Regions from separate parts of the Homo sapiens genome. Here regions 1 and 3 are each linked to region 2. Evidence: fine-mapped expression QTL. A gene starts in region 2. Each other region holds a variant in brackets. All regions are shown on one strand. Distances are between the middles of the regions.

The links.
Region 1: its variant is fine-mapped to the expression of POLR1E in whole blood (TOPMed, PIP 0.93).
Region 3: its variant is fine-mapped to the expression of POLR1E in tibial artery (GTEx, PIP above 0.99).

Annotation. Positions count from the first base shown.
Region 1 is chr9:37,503,009-37,511,187 of GRCh38, reverse strand. It overlaps POLR1E (RNA polymerase I subunit E), which reads right to left. Exons shown (of 12, transcript NM_022490.4): 12 at 7,491-8,145. The coding sequence ends at 7,986. It overlaps FBXO10 (F-box protein 10), which reads left to right. Exons shown (of 11, transcript NM_012166.3): 11 at 1-296. Among named protein-coding and RNA genes, the nearest start is that of POLR1E, 21 kb to the right of the region's middle. The variant C/T (reference allele first, on the strand shown) is at 3,474.
Region 2 is chr9:37,482,624-37,490,791 of GRCh38, reverse strand. POLR1E (RNA polymerase I subunit E) reads right to left here and starts at 4,844. Exons shown (of 12, transcript NM_022490.4): 1 at 4,669-4,844; 2 at 3,986-4,089; 3 at 2,853-2,929; 4 at 1,392-1,477. The coding sequence starts at 4,744. It also overlaps the pseudogene RPL21P83. RefSeq lists a silencer at 4,717-5,046 and an enhancer at 4,788-5,379.
Region 3 is chr9:37,522,493-37,530,671 of GRCh38, reverse strand. It overlaps FBXO10 (F-box protein 10), which reads left to right. Exons shown (of 11, transcript NM_012166.3): 5 at 1,412-1,548; 6 at 5,500-5,570; 7 at 7,695-7,847. Among named protein-coding and RNA genes, the nearest start is that of POLR1E, 41 kb to the right of the region's middle. RefSeq lists enhancers at 1,182-1,231, 1,332-1,701. The variant T/G (reference allele first, on the strand shown) is at 4,221.

The DNA of each region.
Region 1 (8,179 bases), 20 kb before region 2:
ACTGTCGTGCACTTGGCTGCGTGGCTGGTTCTATTGGCCCTAGGTGCTGCTCTGTTGGGTGGGATGGGAGGGGGTAGAGGGAGCCAGGAGCACTGGGTTCTCCCTGAGAACACTGGGCACAAGAGTACTGGCCTCTTCTATCCCTGGCACTGTCCTTTGCACTTGTTTGGTGGCCCCAATGTGAGTCGCTGTAAAAAATGCTGCCGTTACTATTTTCTAAGAAATGACTTTTCTGTGAACCAACAGTAACAAAAACCTCAGTAACCAAAATAAAGTTCTATATTTTAAAAAAGGCACTTTTGGAAGCCTTTCCTTAGTCTGGGCATATACTGGGGCTCCCAGCTGGCCAGGCCCAGCACTGTTTCCTCTGAAGGAGACAGGAGAATCCTGGGGCCATCTTGTTGGGTCAGCTTGTTCCTGTGACAGTTCCAGATATAGGGCTGAAGGGCTCAATCGGGCTATAATTCCACTCCTGCCTGCTCTGTGAAGACAACAGAAACAGGCCGTCCCCATGGATCACTGGACTGTCAGCTTAGGGACCTCAGACCCCGGAGCACACTTCCCCAACTTCACTTACTCAGCATCTTAGAATTTTTGCTATATCCATATGTCACCTGAGAAGTTAGTACTTTTTTCTTTAAATCTACTTAATTTTTAGAAGTTTTAAATATGCAGAAAAATTGAGCAGACAGATGATTACTAGAGTTCCCATATCACCCTTGCCACCCCCGAGTTTCTGTGTTATTAACATCTTATGCTATCAGTGTACATTTGTAAAAATTCATAAACTAGTACTGGCACATTATTAACTAAAGTCCATAGTTTATTCAGATTTTTTTCTTTTTGAAACGGGATCTCACTCTGTTGCCCAGGCTAGAGTGCAGTGGTGTGATCATGGTTCACCGCAGCCTTGACCTCCTCAGGCTCACTCAGGTGATCCTCCCACCTCAGCCTCCTGAGCAGCTGGGACTACAGGCATGCACCACCACGCCTGGCTAATTTATGTATTTTTTTGTAGAGACGGGGTTTTGCCATGTTGCCTAGCCTGGTCTCAAACTCCTGGGCTCAAGTGATCCGCCTGCTTCAATCCCCCAAAGTGCTGGGATTACAAACATGAGCCACTGTGCCTGGCCTCAGATTTCTTTAGTTTGTTACCTAATGTCCTTTTTCCATTCCAGGATCCCATCCTACAACATGTCTTTTTTTCACACACTGAAAAGACTTTTTATATTACTATAAACATACATTAAACTATTAAAATGAAAATATTCATTGGTTTTGGTAGTTACTGTTTGCTGCCCCTCAGGGAGAGTACATGCCCTCTCACGTTGCCATGGGACCTGATTTGCCCAGTGAATGTAGGCAGAAGTGGTTAATGGTCACTTCTGGGTAGAAGCTTTAAGGGCCAGCAGAACTTGCCCCGATCGTGTGTCCCTCTGCCAGTGGACCACCACGTGTCAGACATGGCAGCCCGAGTCCCGGGGTGAAGCTAACCCGGAGCAGGGTCCCAGGTGCCTGCTGGCTGACAGACATGTGCCAGACATTCAACAAAAGCAAATGAACTTTTGTTGAAACCAGACATTTGAGGGCCATTTGTCACTTCAGCTTAGCCTAACCAGCAGAACACAAGTACTTTACTACATCCCTGAGCCACCTAAAATCATCGTAAGTTCTGTCAATAATGTATTAAACATTGACTTGGTGAGCTCATTGTCCCCATTTTGGAGGCTGGGAGTGCTGATGCTCCTGAGATCCGGCAGGGGAAAGTTCCCTATCAGATGTGGAGAGGTGTGAGGAGGGCTATTACCTGGAGCAAAGGTGGCAGGGAAGGGAACAGCTGGGACACAAATTCCCTCCAGGTCATTTGGAGGCAGAAGTGGGAGGAACAGAACACCCACCTTAGCTCTTGTGTTTGGGGAAGAGTCAGGGAGTGCGGGTGCTTTGCACAACAGGCCAGACTTGCCCAAGAAAACTGAGCCCATCTAACTTTTTACTTAATTGAGCCAAAGTCTCTCTCCCTCGCTAAATTCTACCCCTCCTTCAGAAGCTCCTTAGTCACTACTTCTATGGAACACCTTCCCCTGTCTCTACAAATAACAGTTAACTGCGCCTTCTCCATGCTCCTGTGCCCACTCAGCCACATGCCACCTGCAGATGGCACTGAATCCTCTCTTTTCAGTCTGTTGGTTGAGGGCAGGGACTTTGCCCATCTTGTTCACTGTTGATTCTCTATGCCCAGCACAGAGCAAAGCTCACTAAGTGTTGGATGGATGGCGGACAGACAGGCAGACAAATGAGGAAACAAACCCAACCTCATTCCCAGAATCTCTACCTCCTGGGGCCCCCAAAGGACATCTCTTCACTCTGTTCTGTGACAACTCTTCAGAGATTTGCAGGCAGCACCCTCATCCCCCTGGGGTCTGCTGCCCTCCTGGGTTCCTCTCGTATGTGCCAGTTTGCAGGGTGTCTCTTCACCACCCTGGTCATTTCTCTAGACTCACTCCAGTGGCCTGGGTAGGTCTGGGAGAGCCCAAAGAAGCAGAGTTGAGGCGTCCTGTCCTGTATCTCAGGAGGAATGGCCCAGCTCCATGGGCAGCACTCACGGATCTAAAGAGAATTCTCTAAAGTACTGTGTTTCCTTGGAATCATTTGCTTTCAGTCTGCAGTAGCTTCCCTCCCACCCACAGGAATACTGCCATGGGTGAAGGCTTCACTCTGGTGCAGAGTTCACAAGAGGTTCCAGCTGACCTCTACCCAAGCAGCTTATACTGTGTCCTCCCTGGACTTCCCTGTTGGCCAGTCAGGCCCAAACACGGATGTCTGCTGATGGGAATGTACAAGCACAGCAAACACCAGTATGATTTCATCATCTAGGCCTCCAGGTCTTGGTGAGGCCACTGCCCTGGTGCCCAGAGGAAGTCCTAAGTACAGCGGATGTGGACATGGTATGGCCAGACCAGGCAAGAGCCAGAGATGAGCCTTGGAACAGCACATGAGCCTATACTGTCAACAGCACCCCTGGGCCCACCTTCTTCAATCTCCCTTCTGACAACACAGAGCAAGCTTTCTCTCCAAATGCTTCCTCATGGTGGGCTCATGTGGGGCATGCTGGGCTTATTCCTACCCGGATCAGCCTCCCGACACAGGCATGCTCGCCCCATTGGTACCTTCTCACTACCCTCCAGACCTCTGCAGGGTGCCCTTCATGGAGCTCCTGAGCCCGTCAGCTGTGTAGTGTGCTTTTTAAATGAAGTCAAACCTAGCATGGCCTCCTGGTGCAGCCTGAGCTCCCCATCACAGAGCTGTCACCTCTACCCCGAGCCTAGTTCTTGCCTGAGTGCAGCTGAAGATCCCATCTGTCTGGTGGTCAGGATTGCATTTCACTTCCTGCTTCAGGCCCATCATTCATGTCATCCGCTATTCTCCGCTAAAAGGCCAGAGCTCCTTGGATAAAAGACGGATTCAAAGCTGGG[C/T]GTGGTGGTGCATGCCTATAGTCCTAGCTACTCAGGAGGCTGAGGCAGGAGGATGGCTTGAGCCCAGGAGTGGAGTGAGCTGACTGCACCACCGCTCTCCAGCCTGAGCGACAGAGCAAGACCCTGTCTCTAAAAAGCAAAACCACAACAAAAGACTGACTCCAGGGCTGCAGCAGGGAAAGTACAAGGTAGGCCTGGAATATCTCATGCTAGAAAGTAAGGAAGCACCCTTAAAATGATGGGATCCAGGAGGTTTCCTGAAGGAACTCAAGATTGGCCAAATACATACAATCTGGACATCACAAGGAATCACAGTAACAGACTCCACATAGAACACAAGACTCTTGAGTCTATGCCAATAACTAAATGAACACAAAACTTCTAAGGTCGAGAAAACAAACTGCCTTATAAGAGCATGCCAATAATTAGAAGAAACGATAATGTTGCAAAATCACCATTTTGCAACCATCTTGGTAATTGATTCAGCAAGAATCATCAATTGAGGCTGAAACTAGTAGGTGAAAGTTTGATGAGGAACAGGATACTTAGTTTCAAAGTATCCCTCCAGAAATTACTTATTAAAAGGAAAAACAGTATCTTCACAATGCGGAAAACACAACCTTAACTGATAAAAGTTAACAGCAGCAAGGAAAGCGCAGTCCCACATCATGGGCCCCTAATGTGATGCATGTGGGTCACAGCATCATTTCTGTGCTGTTCCTGCCAAAAATGTAAATCCTGAATCCGATCACGGGAAAGCCCCAAATGTAAACTGACAGACACCCTAAAGAATAACACCTCACTCTCCAAAATGTCAAAGCCGAGAAAGTCCAATAAAAATCTGAACTGTTTCAGATTAAGCAAGACCAAAGAGGCATGGTGATCGGTAAGATTTGAACATGAACTGTGGGCTAAGTCATAGTATTGCATTATTGTCTTATTTCCTGCATCTGATGGACTGTGGTTATGGAAGAGAAAGTCCTGATTCTTAAGATGTACACACTGAAAAAGTACTTATGGGTAGAAGGGTAGGATGTTTTCCTCAAATGGTTCAAAAACAAATCTCAAAATGTCTAAAGCAAATAGTAAATGGGACAAAGTATTGACAGTTGGAGAATCTGGGTAAAGGATATACAAGAGTTCTTGCAAGTTTTCTCTGTGTGAAACTATATCAAAATACTTTTTTAAAAGAGGAGACACTTGAAAGAATGTTATGTAATTTACTATTTCCAGGTTAGGGTCTCCTGCAAATGTGGTAACTATGCCTTCTTTGACCTCATCCCAATTAACAGTGTCCAGCAGGTCAGGGCAGCAAGCAAAGACTTCCCTCTAAGGAACAGACTTCATTCTGTTAATCAAACCCTGCCAAGTTAAGACTATCCCACAAACTACAAATCTTCAGGGCACCAGCATCTGGCTCATAGTCCCCCTTTCTTCAATGAGGCCATCAGGAGACATTCTGGCAAATAGCTTGGTGAGATCAAGGTATCCTCTGGGAATCTATTAGTAAACAAATGGGTTTCTAAAGCCAGAAGAAACCCTAGTACAATCCCATTATTCTGCAGGTATTTACCACCTAATAACCCTGCCAAGGAAAGTACGGTTCATGCCGACTCATTCTGCAGACACTGACCACTTTCTATGTCAGGTATTGTGCTAGGTGGAGCCCTCTTCTGAGCCTTTCCTAAGGACTCACAAATCTCCTAATGTACAGAAATTTGCTTTTTAGCCTCTTGGAATGTGTCCCCGACATTTAGCAAAATACACCTGTTGACACACGACAAGTATTTGCCCGCCTAGTCTTTCCCTATCCATACCTACAGTCATTACCACCTGCTTCTCCACTAGGTCAGAGGTTGTTCAGAGGGTCCCAGCCACATGCTGTGTCCAGTCATTCCCAGAAATTAAGCCTCCAAGTGTCAAACCCAGCTGAATTTTAAAAGTAATCACAAAAGGCTGGGCGTGGTGGCTCACGCCTATAATTCCAGCACTTTGGGAGACCGAGGCGGGCAGATCACCTGAGGTCAGGAGATTGAGACCAGCCTAACATGGAGAAACGCTGTCTCTACTAAAAATACAAAATTAGCCGGGCATGGTGGTGCATGCCTGTAATCGGGAGGCTGAGGCAGGAGAAGCACTTGAACCCGGGAGGCAGAGGTTGCAGTGAGCTAAGATCACGCCATTGCACTCCAGCCTGGGCAACAAGAGCGAAACTCCATCTCAAAAAAAAAAAGTAATCACGGAAACACATTCTACCCTGAGGATGTATTAGAAGTCCTTTTCTGAGAGATTATTTTTTCCAAGGAAGAGTCACATACTTGATTTTCACAACGGCTTAAAGGAAAACAAGAGACAAGTAGATTCCCTGCCCACACCTCTGCTGAAGGAAGACAAAGTATGCTCCAAGTGCCTCCTACCCAGGGCCAGAGGCAGATGGGGACAAAGCAGAGGAGCACAGCTCTGAGGGCATCCCAGACCGCAAAGAAAATAAGGTGCACCTGCCCCAAAGCTCAGCCAAGACTCCTTTCCACTGTGACTCCCAAATGGAGGGCCCCAGGTGCTGTGTAAACTTCTCCTCTCAGAGGAGCTGAGTTCTGTCTCCCTCCCTTCACTGACCCGGCCTCCCAGGTGCTGAGTGTCACAGATCTCAACTGCTCCCACTTGAAGCAGGACCCTGAGATGTGAGACTGGGCCCAGGCCACGTACCTAAGCCTTCCTGTGTCACACTCCTGTCCTTATAGCACCGCTCTGGACACAGCTTCTCCATCTCCTCAGTGGCACATACAATTGGTTGGCAGTTATAATCCACTCATGTCCTTCTAGAATGCCTCCTGTAACTAGAGGCTGGTGAGCTGAAACCTATTTCAAAGACTCCCATTCTGCTAGGATTCTACATGCTAATCAGGCTCCTATATATGCGCACCAGAAGGAAGCAAGGTGGAGGCCAGCTGCTTGACCTTCTGGCTGTCTGTGGTGACAAAGTGGTGGAAATACAGGACCTTTGAAAGCACGGGTAGGCTGGGCACGGTGGCTCACACCTGTAATCCCAGCACCTTGGGAGGCCAAGGCGGGTGGATCATGAGGTCAGGAGTCCAAGACCAGCCTGGCCAACACAGTGAAACCCTGTCTCTACTAAAAATGCAAAAAAATTAGCTGGGCATGGTGGCGCATGCCTGTAATCCCAGCTACTCGGGAGGCTGAGGCAGGAGAATTGCTTGAACCAGGCCATGGGAGGCGGAGGTAGCAGTGAGCGAGATCGTGCCACTGCACTCCAGCCTGGGCTACAGAGCAAGACTCTGTCTCAAAAAAATAAAAAGAAAAAGAAGAAAGCATGGGTAGCTGAAATCAGCAGCCCAGTGTTGAATCTTCAGCTGCATGAATTCCAGGAGCAGTTATGGAGCAGAAGTGGCTTCTGAGTCCCCGATGGCAACCCCGGCAGTGTGTTCTTGAATTCAGCAGTCCTGACGGCAACCTTCCGATTCCCAGTCCTCTGGCCCTTGTCACAATTCTACAGCACCTTATCCATACATTAAAATCCATTCTTCTTAAGATACCTAGAGCAATTGATTTTCTGAACTGAACACTGACTGATTCATCCTCTTCAAAGTGTGGCTTTCATAGCTGACCCCTGCCTTCTATGTGGCCTCCACCAGACAGAGAAATTGGGTCACCACTTCCTCTGACTTGGCTCCACCCCATTACAACAGGCTGTATCCTACTGGCCTGTGGCAGCCCCCATCACACTGGTGACCCAGTTAGCTTCTGATAAAGCCTGAAGTGTCATTTCCCAGGCGTGCTGGGCCAGATCCTCCTTCCTCACTGCGTACTCCACTGGCCCTTCCAGACCTAAGCACGCCACTTCACATTTCTCTTTGGAAACCTTCATCCATTAGATTTGACTCAGCCTGGTGAGTCAACTTTGGGAGGGAGGACCCACCCTCCCAAATCCCCACAGGTGAACCAACATGAGAAACATCTGCCATTTATAATCACAGCAATAATACCAAAGGAGAGAGATGAAGTCCAACCTGGCCATCGCTTTATATTTCTGCATAAGACAAGCACAGTTGAGATGCTGGCTTCTGGCTTCATACCTGTGCTAAAGCAAGGCTTCTTTTTTCCTTATGTTACTTTTTTGAGACAAGGTCTCACTCTGTGACCCAGGATGGAGTGTGGCCACACAATCATAGCTCACTGCAACCTTGATTTCCCAAGCTCAAGTAATCGTCCTGCCTCAGCCTCCCGAGTAGCTGGGATTACAGGCGCACACCACCAGGCCTGACTCTTTTTTTTTTCCTCCGGTAGAGATGGGGTCTCCCTATGTTGTCCAGACTGGTTTCAAACTCCTGAGCTCAATGATCTTCCTGCCTCGGCCTCCCAAAGTGCTGGGATTTCAGGTGTGAGCCACCATCCCCGGACCTTTTCTTTTCAAAACATACATAAAAATGGAAATGAATAGGACCAGCCAGTGGCTGTGATGCAGCCAAAACGCCCTGTCTGGAAAGCATGCGTCTAGGTAATCTTCCTCCGCTTTGCCAGGCGGTCTGAGGTCTGGGCTGGAGGCAGCGGGAGGGACAGGGTGCCCAGCTTGTGATCTTCTTCACTGCCGGCGGCCACAGACACCCTTCTTTTGGAGATCTTCAGCCTCATGGCTTTGGCTATCTCCATCATCCTAAGGAAGACATAAACAGAAGAACTGGAGAGAC
Region 2 (8,168 bases):
AAGAAAGGTGATATCGTAGACATCAAGGGAATGGGTACTGTTCAAAAAGGAATGCCCCTCAAGTGTTACCATGGCTAAACTGGAAGCGTCTACAGTTTAGCATGCTGCTGGCATTGTTGTAAACAAACAAGGGCAAGATTCTTGCCAAGAGAATTAGTGTGCGTATTGAGCACATTAAGCACTCTAAGAGCCGAGAAAGCTTCATGAAACGGGTGAAGAAAGATGATTAGAAAAAGACAGAAGCAAAAGAGAAAGGTACCTGGGTTCAACTGAAGCGCCAGCCTGCTCCACCCAGAGAAGCACACTTGGTGAGAACCAATGGGAAGCAGCCTGAGCTGCTGGAACCTATTCCCTATGAATTCATGGCGTGACAGGTGTTTAAAAAATGAAAGACCTCTGGACTGTAAAAATGTTTCTCTTCATTGAGTAGAAGTGTGGTGTTCTCTCCCCCAAAGAAATATTTAAGGCAAATTTTAATTATGTCCTAGTTCATTATGTAATGTCTTTACTCTTCAAATTTAATGTATTTCTTGCTGAAAGACGTGAGGTAGCTTATTGTGCAACAAACTCCTCGATTGTTTAGAAAATGGCCAGGTATTACGTATGAAATATTTGTACTGGTTTGAAGATAGTCCCTTGAAATGATCAAGGAAGAAATAAAGTAATTTACAAAAATAAAAAATAAAAATAAAAAGAATGAAGGAAGTTCTTTTATGGAAAAGATTTTATATCAGACATGTCCTCTAATATTCTGCTCTGATCATTGCTCAGATTGCTTTTATGAACCTCTGACCTCAAGTCTCTAAACACTATGGGGACAGGATCTGTGTCTGTCTTGCTTACTGCCACATCCACAGCCCCAGCTTGGTGCCTGGTACATTAGGTTATCAATAAGTGTGTGCTGAATAAAAAACTCTAGGCCGGGCGCAGTGGCTAGCGCCTGTAATCCTAGCACTTTGGGAGGCCGAGGCAGGTGGATCACCTGAGGTCAAGAGTTTGAGACCAGCCTGGCCAACATGGTAAAACGCTGTCTCTATTAAAAATACAAAAATTAGCCGGGTGTGGTGATGTGCACCTGTAATCCCAGCTACTCGGGAGGCTGAGGTAGGAGAATCACTTGAACCCGGGAGGTGGAAGTTGCAGCGAGCCAATATCACACCACTGCACTCTAGCCTGGGTGACAGAGTGGGACTGCATCTCAAAAAAAACAAAAAACAAAAAACAGTGTGTATATAAAAAACCATTTTCTCAACACAGACAAAGCAGAAAAAACAGAATAAATAAATTAAAATAACTATAAAATGTGTTTTATAAATCTAAAACTCAAGCCAACTCATCCAGCAAACCCAAACTATGCATTATTTCTGTCAGCTTTCATGACTGGGACCTACCTGAAAATAGTGGCTGCATGTTGAACAATTCAGCATCATATACTTCCATTTGGCCAGAGGTCTTGTTCAAAATTCCCACAAAGTGCCTGAATAAAGAAGAAATAATACAAATAACAATGGATTATTCAAAAGCATTATTTGTACAGCTTTCTTTTTTTTTTTTTTGAGACAGAGTCTTGCTGTCACCCAGGCTGGAGTGGAGTGGCATGATCTCGGCTCACTGCAACCTCCACCTCCCGGGTTCAAGCAATTCTCCTGTCTCAGCCTGCTGAGTAGCTGGGATTACAGGCGCACGCCACCATCCCCGGCTAATTTTTGCATTTTTAATAAAGATGGGTTTCACCATGTTGTCCAGGCTGGTCTCGAACTCCTGACCTCAGGTGATCTGACCCTATCAGCCTCCCAAAGTGCTGGGATTACAGGCGTGAGCCACTGCACCTGGCCCTGTTTCCTGTTCAAAAGTTCTCAACCTTCTCTCTGCCCACACACCTGAGGAATGCATCATCTACTCATGGGTAACAATAATCTCCCCTACCCCTACCCCACAGCAATTCTCTGCATAGAGAGGGAATAGGAAAGGATAGGATGGGATGGGAGGATATGAGGTGGTTCTGGGAAAAAAAAAAAAGCTACTAGGTGATTCTGATAGTTGATCACATTTGGGCTCACTGCGGTAGTGTAATGGAAAACTCTTTTGGGGTGTACGAACCTAGAATTACACTACAATTTATGGCACAACAGTTTTATGGAGGCAAAATCAAGTAAACGGGGAGGAGACCAATTGGAACTAGGGCATCTCTGAGAGGGGAGAGTGCAGGGTTAATAGTTCTCAGCACCTATACACCCATCTGACCTCTCCTCTATTGGAGTATGGTCCACCGGGGCTCAGAAAGGGCCTAGTTTGTAGTTCATTGTTGGGTACCATCACAGGGCCCTGTCTGCATCATGCCAGCCCCCGAGAGTGATACAGTTCAGGCTGGACAATCTTCACTGTACAGAGGGGGAGGCTGGGGGTCAGTGATGCGCAGAGTTACCCAGCCACTCAGTCAATCAGCAGCACAGCTGGATGGGAATCCCAGGCTCCTCTTTCCCAGTCCAGAGCCTTCAACACTACCAAGTTCTTTACCTGTCGTTAGTTCCCAGGTAAACTTCACGCAAGCTTTGACCTACTAGTCACACATTCCAAATTAATGGAGAGACCTGCCTTTTGGAATAAGACAGCTATAAATAAACAAGATTACAAATGAATGAGGTTTTTAGGAAATTCAAGTTATCTTTCCTTTCCAGCAACGTCTACACGTGCAGGGAAGGGCTCTGGGTCTAATAGGAACACAGGGATCACCTAGTAAACCTCTCTAGATGGCTCCTGCTACCCTTAAAACAGACAGGAAACAGCAGTGCCAGTGCTGCCACCACTCCCAACCCCATCACCCTTCCCACTGTCCCTTCCCCTGCCATTACCTGCACAAAGTGTTGCATTTGAGGGCTCCAGTCCCAAAATTGTTTCCCACATAGGAGAGCCTATCTGTTTCAGCTGCCTAAAATGCAGAGAGGGGAAACTCCATTTACAACCAATGTTGAAAGGTATTAAGCATCATTTCTCTTTTCTACATTTGCTGAGGCTTTTGAATCCAGACTCACAATGGATTAGAACTAGTTCATCTCTGGCAGATGATCCAGCCCCACTATCTCTAAGGGAATATGGGGTGTCCCTGCAGGGGAAGCAAGACGACTTCTGGAAGAGAAGCCTCAGATGGTGCTAGCTTCTAAATGGTATGAAAAGCTCTTGGGGGAATTCTGCCACAAGACTTGAGAGAGAGGCCCTGGGCTTCTGGCACTTAAAGGTATGCAACAAAGTGATTCTGTAAGCAATCTCTCTTTGGCCTGTTCTTTGTATACTCTCAGGACCATGGCTGATTCACTCCCCAATCATAAGCAAGCTTTCCTGCTTCTCTGCATTTGTCCTCACTATCCTTTTCACTCGAAACACCAAACGTTGACTGCCAAACCCTCATTCCAGCCTTCAAGGCTCAGCTCCAACATGACCTCACCAAGGAAGGCATTCTGGCAGAGACCTCTCCTCCCACTGAGCTCACTCTGCCCTGTACTCTTCCCCACGTGGCCTCAGAGCTTTGTGTAAAAGTGTCCCTCACAGCCAGTTCTCATCTCTCTAGAGCAGAGGTTCTCAATCCAGGGAAATCCACTCTGGTGCTACTGGCATCTAATGAGTAGAGACTAGGGATGCTGCCCCCACAGCAAAGAATTATTGGCCCAAAAAGTCAATAGTCCTGAGGTTGAGAAACCCTGCTCTAGAGTATGAACTCTGAGTGGGGCTAGGCCTGATTTGGCTGTTTTCCTAGAAGCTTGCAGCACAGGGATGCAGAGGGGCAGGTTCCATAAATGCTTGTTGAAAGAACAAATGAATGAAAGATGGAGCCTGTCCCCACATCCCAGGCTGCTGGGCATCAGAGTTCTTCAAAGCTCCATTTGCTACTACTCCCCTTTTTCTCCCCTCACTCCCTCCCACATCCACCCACTCCCAGGGGCCTTCTGAGCCCTGCAGAGTGGAGACAGCTGGCAACTGCTTCACTTACCAGGATCCGTTGATTCCTCTTCCTGGGGTTGGTGGAATCTTTGTTCTCATACAAGGTAAAGCGCATGTTGCCTGGACTCTGTAGCTTCCCGTTGGAGAACTGGACTGTAAGAGTGCAGCCCAAGAATGAGATGAGAGCAGAAGGCCACACAATGTACCACACAATGTACGGTGGGACTAGACTGTCACTGGGAGGGAGTGTCAGAATGGGGATGGCAAGGAAGCTCGGGTCCTGACCCAAAGGGAACTGGAGGAGATCCGGGGCCAGCTGAGAAGAGGAGGTAGGGAGGTGGGAGAACCCTGGGGAGGGGCTGTGACAGGAGGGAATGTCTCGCGGAAGGAGGCTGACAGCAGAGGCCTGGTACATACCTAAAGTGACAGAAGGAACCCCTGCCCAGTGAAGAGAGGGAAATGGGGGAGGCGGGAGACCTGGTGGGTGAGGGGGTCAGCAGGGTCCTGGACACAGCTCTGGGGAGCGGGTGAGTGGGATGTCCCAATCTGGCTGGGAGGTAGTGACAGAAAGACGGACAGGGGAGCCCTGACAGAGCCCAGGGGAGTGGTGGAGACTAGAGGGGTCCCGGCCCCGCTGGGGAGAAGCCCAACGGAGGGCGAGAGGACAGCTGAGGTACCGAGACGGAAGGGGAGAGGGTTAGAGGAGCACTGCTCCAGCTCCGCAGTCTTTACCCAGTACAGCTCTCTGGCTCCCGTCGGGCGCCCCACAATACTGCCACCTCGCACTCGGCAACACCTCCGCCGCCATCTCGCCTGTCTGTCCGCCAAGCACAGGAGTTAAGACAGCAGCAGCCACAAGCGCACTTTTAAACACGCGGGAGCCCAGGCCGCGCTGCGGGCCGGAAAAGGCGTGGCCCCGCCGGGCACCGCCCACAGCGCGCGAGCCGCGTGTCCCCGCCCCCCGCGTAGAGAGGCGTGGTCTCCGCCCACAAGGTGCCACACACCCGCTTGACTGGCCGAGGCGCAGCACCTGATTGGCTCAGCGCTCGCGTGCACTCTGGGTTTTGTAGGTCCAGAGCCCGAGGCGCCAAAGGCTTCAGCCTAAGCTTGCTATGAGCCTTCTTCCGGCTCAGCACCTTCTAAAGAGAGTGTCGTCTCTCTCTCCTACCGTGACAAACTCATCTTCCCAAGACCTGAAGGACCAAGTTCAAATTTAGAATTCTCTGACAGGAACTGCTTGAGCCCCAACTAAATGTGGCCGCTGGCGAATAGCCGCCCCTCTCTAGGGCTTCCCACCCACCCACGTGGACATCCAGCTCTAGGTACAAACTTTGTCCACAGTCCGACAAACAGCTCCCCGCCATGGGCTGTGGCGTGCACACCTGTGGCCCAATCAACACTGAGGTGATGGAACAGAAGCCCAGCCAACCCCGGAGCCTTTGGGCAGGAGATTCTGGACTGGAATAGAAGAGGGAGTCCGAGCTGATGGACATGTCCCTTTTTCACTGCGGATTCAACCCTTCTTCTGCACGGGGAGTTTTCAGAGCAGAAAGAAGGCGAAAGCAGGGCCTTTAAGCATGGACGCTGGCCGAGGCCCCCTTTGCCCAAAGATGCGTACTATTGAAGGGCAAGAACTCCGGTTGACTCCCCTCTGTCTTCCAAATCACCTTCTTTCAAGACTCTTTTCCTTCCACACACCCTCAACACCCGCCTCCAACACCCAGGATCCTAGGAATAACCCTAAAGCCTGCATGCCCCTTTGCCTGAGCACTTGTCACGCTTTTCTAATTACCCAATCTCAAACGTAAAGAAACACTGCAAGAAATGTTTTTGCCCTGAACCATTTAGAGTAAGTTGTCAACCTGATACCCTTTCAACCCTGAAGACTATAGTATTTCCTACAGACATTCCCTAAATAACAACACAGCCATCAGAATCAGCAAATTGCCGGGCGCAGTGGTTCACGCCTGCAATCCCAGCACTTTGGGAGGGAGAGGCAGTTCTATCCCTTGATTCCAGGAGTTTGAGACCAGGCTGGGCAACATAACAAGACCCTGTCTCTACAAAAAATAATATTAGCCATGTGTGGTGGCGCACGCGTGTCGTCCCAGCTACTCGGGAGGCTGAGGTGGGAGGATTGCTTGAGCCTAGGAGGCAGAGGCTGCAGTGAGCTGTGATGGTGCCACTGCACTCTAGCCTGGGCGACAAAAAAAAAAAAAAAAATTAAACAGAAAAGAATCAGGAAATTAGCACTGGTACATTACCACCATGTAATCCTCACATCCCATTTAAGTTCACCCATTGTCCCAACGTTTGTTGTTAGTTTGTTTTTTGAGACAGGGTCTCACTCTGTCACCCAGGCTGGAGTGCAGTGTTGCAACCAGGGCTCACTGCAGCCTTGACCTTCCAGGCTCAAGTGATCCTCTCACCACAACCTGGGAATACAAGTGTGTGCCACCACACTCAGTTTTGTTTTGTTTTTTCTTAATTAAAAAAATTTTTTGTAGAGACTAGGTCTCACTGTGTTGCCAGGGCTGGTCTCAGACTCCTGGGCTCAAGTGATCCTCCCACCTTGGCCTCCCAAAGTTCTGGGATTACAGGCGTGAGCCATTGCAGCTGGCCCAATCATGTTTTTATAGCAAAAATGTCCTGTCAAGAATCATGTGTTGCATTTAGCTCTCATAGCCTTTCCTCCCTTAGAAGGCTACCTTGCTTGACCCCACCTCATGATTTTGGATTGAATTGTTCAGGAAAGGAAAAGGGAAGAAGAAGAAAGAAGAAAGAAGGATGAAGAAAGAAGAGCTTAATTGTGTGATTGTCTCACCCATTGATTGTTTCCTCACTAAACTTACTTGGGGTTCACAATAAACACTTTGGAGGTTAATAAACAAATTTATGTTTGTTTTGATCACTGCTTTATCTCCAAATCCTGAACATACTAGACCCTCAATAAATATGGAATGAATTAATGAATGACAGGGCAAAGAATGGGCCTGAATTATCACTAATCTTGGAAGCCTAGCACAGGGACTGGAACTCAAAGATGTTTGGTAATATTGGTTGAAATCAACTAGCATAGGGTTTACACATAACAGACTCTATAAATGTTTTTTGGTTGAATGAAAATATGAACAGTTAAATCAAAGTTAAAGGTGACCAAGATAACAGTGGCTACAATGAGCCAAGTATAGTTCTTAAGAGAAGTATCTTGTGATATAGGAACACATTATATGGCCTTGTTACTCATGATATAGGAACACATTGTATGGCCTTGTTACTCAAAGTGTGGTCCATGGAAACAGCAGCCTCGACAGCACCTGGGAACTTGTTAGAAATATAGGATCTCCAACCCTATCAAATCTTCTGCAACAGGATCTGCAGGTGATTCATGTGCACTTGAAGTTTAGGAATCACTGTTATACCGGACTGATTCCCCTTTAAGGCACATATTTGCCAGTCAGACAGATTATGTGCAAGTCCCCTGGATTGACTGTTTTGTAGCGAGGACAAAGAGTGAAGAGTACAACACACCCACTGAAGCAAAAACTCCTAGAATTACCACAGGCAAGAATTCCAAATGACGGAGATTCTATCCGTGGAAGCAAAGTGTTGATGGTCAGGCAGCTGGGAAGGGGATCATAGTATACCCCTGTGTTGTTTAATTATTTAACAGTTATTCAAAAGACACACCTATACACACCATGTACATATACATACGTGCCTGTGTAACTGGGATGGGGCAGGATGGAGGTGGGATGGGGCAGGATGGAGGGAGCCCTACATAGGCATTAACCAAAATGCAAAAACCTATAGTGGCCTCTTTTATTTTTTTATTTTATTTAATTATTTATTTATTTTTTTGAGGCGGAGTCTCACTCTTGTCGCCCAGGCTGGAGTGCAGTGGTGTGATCTGGGCTCACTGCAACCTCCGCCTCCTGGGTCCAAGCAGTTCTCCTGCCTCAGCCTCCTGAGTAGCCAGGATTACAGGTGCCCACCACCACGCCCGGCTAATTTTTGTAGTTTTGTTAGAGACAGGGTTTCACCATGTTGGCCAGGCTGGTCTCGAACCCCTGACCTCAAGTGATCCACCTGCCTCAGCCTCCCTAGGTGTTGGGATTACAGGCGTGAGCCACCACACCTGGCCAGGTGGCCTCTTTTATATTCAAATCGTGGATAATCACAGGCAAAATTTACCACATAATTTTTTTTGGAAATTTAGTTTGGAAATAATT
Region 3 (8,179 bases), 40 kb before region 2:
TGCACTCCAGCCTGGGCAACAGAGCGAGACCCTGTCTCAAAAAAAGAAAAAGAAAATACACACAGCTAGCCAGTGTCTCCTGCCAACCCCTTCCCCTCACTGTGTTTCTACCATGCAGCTGGTGGTTGATGCATGGCTTTGGCTTAGGAAATTATTGCCCCTCTGGCTAGAGAGATGAGGGGTTTGCCCTTCTGAGGACAGAGGGATAGCAGGTGGAGGGGGAAGGGAGTGGTATATTTTAGTCCTGGCGTTGTGAAAGGGTGTAGGGATGGAAATGCTGCTGCATACTCCTTTTGGAGCTCTTCAGCCCTGTGCGGGACTTCTCTTAGGCAGTGGTTGCTCTGATGAGCCTGCCAAATCCTTCAGGAAAAATCTGGAAAGAGTAAGAATAAGGAGAGTTTGCACACGAAACACTTTAAAGCCAACTAGAACTTTATTTCTGCGAAATCATTTTGGAAGAGATACAGCTAACTTCCCAATTTACAAAGTATAGAATTGGACTTCAGCTATAAATTAACTTAGAGTGAGATAATTTTATTATTATTCTAATCTAAAAATATTAAGTCACTGTGCAAAAGCAACTAACTGGAATGGGAAAGAGAAAAACTAGATTTCAGATCTGGCTTTTCCACAAATGTACTATATAATCGTGGGCCTGTTTTCCCATTCGCACAAAGAGATATTAGAAATGAATATCTTGCCGGGTGTGGTGGCTCACACCTGTAATCCCAGCACTTTGGGAGGCCAAGATGGGAGGATCACTGGAGGCCAGGAGTTCAAGACCAGCCTGGGCAATGAAGCAAAACCCTGTCTCTACCAAAAAAAAAAAAAAAAGATATCTCTTGGCATTCTGTAGCTCATACACCTTCTAAGACCTTATGCCCCATGGGACAGCTTGGCCCCCCAGTGTCTGCATCTTCCGCTGGCCCTCCCTAAATGAGAAAGGACTAGAAGTCAAACAACTGTGACCCCTCTCTGGATGTGGCCCCTTTAGGACTGCAGTTGGCCAACATTTGGTTGCACTGGGGTGCTGCCTTTCCTCAAGAGATGGCCTCCCTGGACCCTAGAAGTTATGGCCTGGCCAAATGATTATGTGTTTAGGGGACTCATTAGAGGCTCTGAAACTTTCAGTAGCCTGCCTTGCAGGTGAAGACCAAGAGCCCTCCTAAGAGGCTGGGCAGCGAAGACTCCAGTCTTCATAGTCTCCCTTACAGGTTTTCATGTGTGTACTGGTGCAGGAAGGGCAGGGCGGCAGTGTGACCCATTCCCTTTGTCACGGGCTAGGGCTCTTACAGTGACGTCATTTTCTCCACTGTGTTCATCCTGCCGCGGAGGTGTGGGCGGCACCTGGGCACTCTGCTTCGCTGACGTGTCTGATCTGGCTTCTGTGGTGTCTCATTTTCACTTGCAGTGTAACCAGATCCACCATGGCCTTCGCTCTGGCATTGTCGTCCTTGGCAATGGGAAAGGCATCATCCGGAACAATCAAATCTTTTCCAATAAGGAGGCTGGCATTTACATCCTGTACCACGGAAACCCCGTTGTGAGGTGTGTGCTGCTGTTTCCCTCCTTCATCTTTGTTAACCTCCTCCCTGTCTCTCCTCCATTTGAAAACACTCTTTACGGAAACAACTGTACAGATGCAAGCAGAGAAGAGACTTCACTCATCATCCCACCCCAGTAACACAGCGGCTTTTGTGTTTATGTGCCCTTCCAGTGAACTCCGTGTAGGCGTTCTATTCGGCAGTCACTACTGAGCACTTCCAACATGGGCAGGCTCTGCTCCCTGGGAGCTTACTCTAGCCTGGAGAAATGGGCACAGAAGTACCCCCAGGCAGGGATGGAACAGAGATTTCAGCTCACCTAACAGTTTCAGTTACTTGCTAGTGGTGCCTGGGGGTGCTGTGTCAACATCCTGGTGCTGCACCTGGCCTCAGCACAAAAGCATGCTGTGGTCAGGGACTGATATAAGTGATAGGTGGGAGGCAGCAGTGGCAGTCCTGGGACCCTGTCTGCCATCCCAGCTCTAGTATGGGGCAGACTGTGATAAATGCTGTCAGAGTGGTACCAGAAGGAGAGACTCATTCTGACTAGGAGGATGTGGGAAGGCCTCATTTAGGAGGTAGCATCAGAGTCAGACTTTGGAATATGGGTAAGACTTGGACTCATGGAGATAGGGGTAGGGAGGGGTCGGTGGATGTTCCTAGTAATGGAACAGCATGAGCAAAGGCAGCAGGGCACAGCAGATTCAGGGGTTAGCAAACCGTTGACGGTGGCTTGAGAAAAAATCTGACATGGTGTGACAGTGCTATAGAATATTTTAAATTGGGATGGTCCCAGAATATCTTGGGCCCTGTGGTCACTGCAGTGTGACCCTTGACGTCCTTGCGGCAGACCATCTGTGCCACACAGCAGAGTGGAAAGGAATGATGGAAAGAAAGGCTTGGGCCAGATGAGGAAGGCCTTATGTAGACCAAGCTGAGGCGGGGGAGCCTATTCTGTCTACACAGCGGGGACTCATTAAAGGCTCTGAGCAGAAGACTCACACAGTTATGTCTGTGCTTTAGGAGAATAGCTGGCATTAATGGGCAGCAAGTATATTCAGAGCGCTTTCCCCCAGCATTATTCCATAGGTACTTTGTCTCCATGTTGTTGCATGCATGGCCTTTACATTCATCACTTTGGAAAGTTTCACCATATTCCAGTATTTCGATATGCCATAATTTTTGAACCAGACCTAATTGCTGGTTCAAAAATTACGGAATATAATCCTATTTTTCACTGTTACAGACAGCTTACTAAAAACAATTAGTGGTCATAGAGCTCTTTCCCTTCTTCTGCATTATTGCCTGAACAGAAGAGTGTGTATTTGTATGTGTGTGTGCTGTTCATTGAACACACATTCCAGCCACTCTATATAAGGGGGCAGTGATATACAACATGTACAAGAACAGTCCCTGCCTGCCCCATGGAGTTGACAGTCTTATGCTGGAGATGGACACACACTCACACAGCCATGATGGAAGACTCACCAAAATGAGCACTTTACTAGGCATTCATGCAGACTGACCAAGGAACTCAGCCGTGATCTCAGCTGAGCATGTCAGGGAGCTGACATTTGAGTTGTGCTTGAAAGATAAATAGGATTTTATGGCCAGGGAAAAGGCATTCTGGGCCAGAGGCAGTGAAATTCAGGGTATGTCTGAGAAAATGGTGAGAAATGTGGTGTGTTTGGACACGAGATACCAGAGGGATAGTGCAAAGGCAGGTTGTTGCTGGACGGCAGAGGACCTTGAATGCCAAGCATGATAGGCAGAATAATGGCCCCAAGGATGTCCATGTCTTAGTCCCTGAACCCTGTGCATATGTTGCCTTACAAGGCAAGAGGAACTTTGCAGATTTGATTGAGTGAAGGACTTTGGAGAAAGATGAAAGGAGGTTATTTTGGATGATACAGGTGGGCCCAGTGTAACCACAGGCCCTTATGAGAAGGAAGCAGGGGAATTAGATTAAGAGAGCAGGGGCCGGGGCGGTGCCTCATGCCTGTAATCCCAACACTTTGGGAGGCCGAGGCGGGCAGATCACTTGAGGTCAGGAGTTCGAGATCAGCCTGGCCAACACGGTGAAACCCCATCTCTACTAAAAATATAAAAAATAGCCAGGTATGGTGGCAGGTGCCTGTAATCCCAGCTACTTGGGAGGCTGAGGCAGGAGAATCGCTTGAACCCGGGAGGCGAAGGTTGCAGTGAGCCGAGATCGTGCCACTGCACTCCAGCCTGGGTGACAAGAGCGAGACTCCATTTCAATAAATAAATAAATAAATAAATAAATAAATAAATAAATAAATAAAATATTTTAAAAAATAAATAAATAAGAGAGCAGGAGATGTGAGGACAGAAGCAGAAGTCAGAGTGATGAGGCCACAGCCCAAGAAGTGCAGGCGGCCTCTAGGAGCTGGAAAGGATGAGGAGTGGATTCTCCCCGGAGCCTCCAGATAGAACACAGGTCTGCTGACACTTTGATTTTAGCCCTGTGAAACCCATTTTGAACTCCTGGCCTCCTGAACTGAAAGATAGAAATTTGTATTGTTTTAAGCCACCAAGTTTGTGGTAATTTGTTATAGTAACAATAGGAAACTAATACACCAAGCTGAAAAGTCTGGGCTTTACCTTGGGGATGCTGGGGAACCATGAAAGAGTTTTGGGTGAGGAATATCATAA[T/G]TAGATCAGTGTTGGGTTTTTAAAACATAGTCATCTTGAGAGAATAGGTTGTGCTTTTTTCCTTTGTTTCTTTGCAATGAGAGATAAGAGTCTGGAGCAGGATACGGAATGAAGTTTAAGATCCCTGTAATGGCCTGGATGAGACAAACCATAGGATCTATTTTTGCCACAGAAAGTTATATTTTTTGTCTTTTTATATGTTATATATGTTTCTCTTTTTTCCTTGGATGCAGAGAAGCACAGGACTCAAATTGTGCTCATCTGCAGTTAATATCCCATCCTGGGCTCTTGGTACACTGATCTGTCCCCTTCTTCTAAGTGTTTTCTCATCCCTCCTGTATCTTTATTCTGCTTGCCCCATGTACACACATACACACACTTCTCCAGGTGGCCACGGATCCTTTCTGGAGGTGAGATTTGTAGTAAAAATATGCCAGGGCTCAGTTACTCATGCTGGTAGTCCCAGCTACTTGGGAGGCTGAGGTGGGAGGATCACTTGAGTGCAAGAGGTTGAGGCTAGCCTGAGCAACATAGCGAGAACCCATGTCTTAAACAAAAAAATTGTAAACATTTTCTGGTTCAAACATTTGAGGGTTGGATAAAATACATATAAGGCCAGGCGCGGTGGCTCATGCCTGTAATCCCAGCACTTTAGGAGGCTGAGGCGGATGGGTCACTTGAGGCCAGGAGTTCGAGACCAGCCTGGGCAACGTAGCAAAACCCCATCTCTACAAAAAGTACAAAAAATTAGCTGGATGTGGTGGCGCACACGTGTAATCCAGGCTGAGGCACGAACATCGCTTGAACCCAGGAGGTGGAGGTTGCAGTGAGCTGAGATTGTGCCACTGCACTCCAGCATGGGCAACAGAGCAAGACCTCAAAAAAAAAAATGTATATATATATGCATGGGTATATATGTAGATGACAGTCAAGTGAGGCTACAGTGAACTGGATATCATTGTGCGTGTATAGCATAGTTGGGGGTTTAGTTTTTGGTCAAGCTGTCCCAGTGACAACTAAACATTTCTATATGCCTGGCTTATAAAGGGACTTTAGGAAATGCTTTTATGCCCCTGTGGACTTGAGCCATAGGGAGGCTCAAGTGATCCTCCACCCCAGCCTCCCAAGAAGCTGGGACTACAGGTGCACACCACCACACCCGGCTAATTTTTTTGTATTTTTTGTAGAGACAGGGTTTCCATGAAAGAAGGCAGTCTCCTGGAAGCATGACATTGATGCCCTGGGCTCACCTCTTTGTTTTGTTTTCCTTCCACTTTAGCGGGAACCACATCTTCAAGGGCCGTGCTGCCGGCATAGCAGTGAATGAGAACGGCAAAGGCCTCATCACAGGTACGGATGGGAACTGCCTGGCACCTGGCAGCCAGGCCAAGGTCCCCTGGCGTCACCCCCCAGCTTCAGGACCTCACACTGCTCCTTTACCCCCACAGACTATGGCCTCTTTCTCTGACTGGTGGGCTGGAGCTCAGGGACGCCAGCTGCATGGTGGCTGTGCTTCTTACAGGAGGGCCTAACACAGAGTGGGTGTCTGCTCCTTCCAGGCCCAGAGCCGACAGGCCCTCACAAGGTGGCTCACAGAACAGTTTCAGAAGCACTGATGCCCAACCACCTGTCCAAATCCCTCCTCTTGGTCTTTGTGCGGACCTCTGCCTGCTCTGGAAACCTCCGCCCGGCTAACCCCTGCTTATCCTTTGGGTCTTAGCTTAACTGTCACTTCCTCAGGGAAGCCTTCCCTGACTTCCCCATTGTACACAGATACACTCACTATACCCAGGATGCCTCCTCTCTAGGGCCTTTGACTTAATTTCTTAGTGGTTTGTGGTGTCCGTCTCCTCTGTTATAAAGTGGTAAATTCCACAAGGTGAGGGTCAAGTCCATCTGGTACATCAATGTAGCCTCAGCACAGAGCAGAGCCAGGCCTGGGATATGAAAGGGATTCCGCAAATACTGGTCCAGGGAATCCCCCTGACTGAACTTATCAGACATGGATTGAGCACGTGTGGTATACAGGCCGTGTTCCAGGAGCTACAAGTGCAGCAGTGAACGAGGCTGTCAGCCACTGACATTTTAGGAGAGGAAGCGAATAAATAAATAAAAGCCTACGTATATGAGCAAAAAACATCCCATCTGAGGGTGACAAGTGCTCTATGGATAATTAAGGCAAAAGAGGGACTGGGTAGGCATTTGGGATTGTGTGGTCAGGGCAGCCCTCTGAGAAGGTGACAAGGAAACCAGACCCTGAGTGGGAGTGGCTGGAGGAGCTGGGAAAGAACCTTCCGTGTAGGGCCGCCTGTGAGAACAGACTTGGCATGGCCGAGTGGACATCGCTTGTGGGACTGGAGTGTGGTGCACAAGGGGCCTGCAGTGGGGACATGGAGACAGGAAGAGGCCAGTCACACAGAGACTCCTGAGCCATTGCAGGTGAGGCTAGCGCCTTCTCACAGGCTTGTGGGTAAATGGCCACATTCTGCCTCTGAGGACTCTAAAGCCAGTTTATTTATTTATTTTTTTTGAGACGGAATTTCACTCACTCTTGTTGCCCAGGCTGGAGTGCAATGGCGCGATCTCGGCTCACTGCAACCTCCGCCTCCCAGGTTCAAGTGATTCTTCTGCCTCAGCCTCCCGAGTAGCTGGGATTACAGGCATGTGCCACCACGCCCAATTTTGTATTTTTAGTAGAGACGGGGTTTCTCCATGTTGGTCAGGCTGGTCTCGAACTCCCGACCTCAGGTGATCCGCCCGTCTCAGCCTCCCAAAGTGCTGGGGTTACAGGCGTGAGCCACCGCACCCGGCCTATTCTTTGTTTTGTTTCCTTTTTGTTTGGTTGGTTGGTTTTTTGGACACCAGTGTCACTCACCAAAGCTAGTTTATTCTTTTTTTTGAGGCAGGGTCTCAGTCTGTCATCCAGGCCAGAGTGCAGTGGCTCGATTATAGCCCACTGCAGCCCTGACCTCCAGGGTTCAAGTGATCCTCCCACCCAGCCTCCCAAGAAGCTGGGACTACAGGCACGCACCACCACACCTGGCTAATTTTTTTTGTATTTTTTTTTAGAGACAGGATTTCCCCATTTTGCCCAGGATGGTCTGGAACTCCTGGGCTCAAGTGATCTACCCGCCTTGGCCTCCTAAAGTACTGGGATTACAGGCATGAGCCACCATGCCTGGCCAAAACTAGTTCATTTTTAATCATCAGTCCTCAAGGCCATTGGGTGTATAGTAGGTGCCGGGGAGATAGGAGTGCACAAGATAGACACAAGCCTTGCCCTTGGGGAAAGGAGTCAGCAGATAAGTCCCTGAAACATCAGACAGCAGACAAGATTTACAGTGCTAATTGCTGGCAGGGTAAGGCCAGGGCCTTCTGGTCTGGAGTAGCCTTGATCAAAACTGTCCAAGTCCTATTTGCCAGCACTGGAGCTGGCCCTTGGGTACTGACCTTCTTTTCTGCTTCTCTCCATAGAAAATGTCATCCGTGAGAATCAGTGGGGAGGTGTGGACATCCGCCGTGGAGGGATCCCCGTTCTCAGGAGTAACCTCATCTGCTTTGGCTATTCAGATGGTGTGGTTGTGGGAGACGAAGGCAAAGGCCTCATAGAAGGAAATACCATCTACGGTGAGGAGCTTGTTCCCAACCCAGCCGGGGAGGCAGGAAGCCCAGGTTCCATCTCCAGCTTGTGGGTCCTGAGAAGGTCACTGCCTTTCCCTGTGCCTCAAAGACCTCATCTGAACAGGCACTCTCAGGCCACAGTCACCCAGGCCCTCCCAGAACAAAGAGCCTCTTACAAATCACATTGTAGTCCAGATTGACCCCGTGGGGTTAGCAAAGCAGAAGGCTTTATCCCCTTTTAAAATAGCAAAAGACAGGAGTTGTGTCATGTCTTAAGGACAGGACCATTTCAGCCCTGGCTCATGTGCATCTAACTCCTCTTATCCTTTCTTTTGATC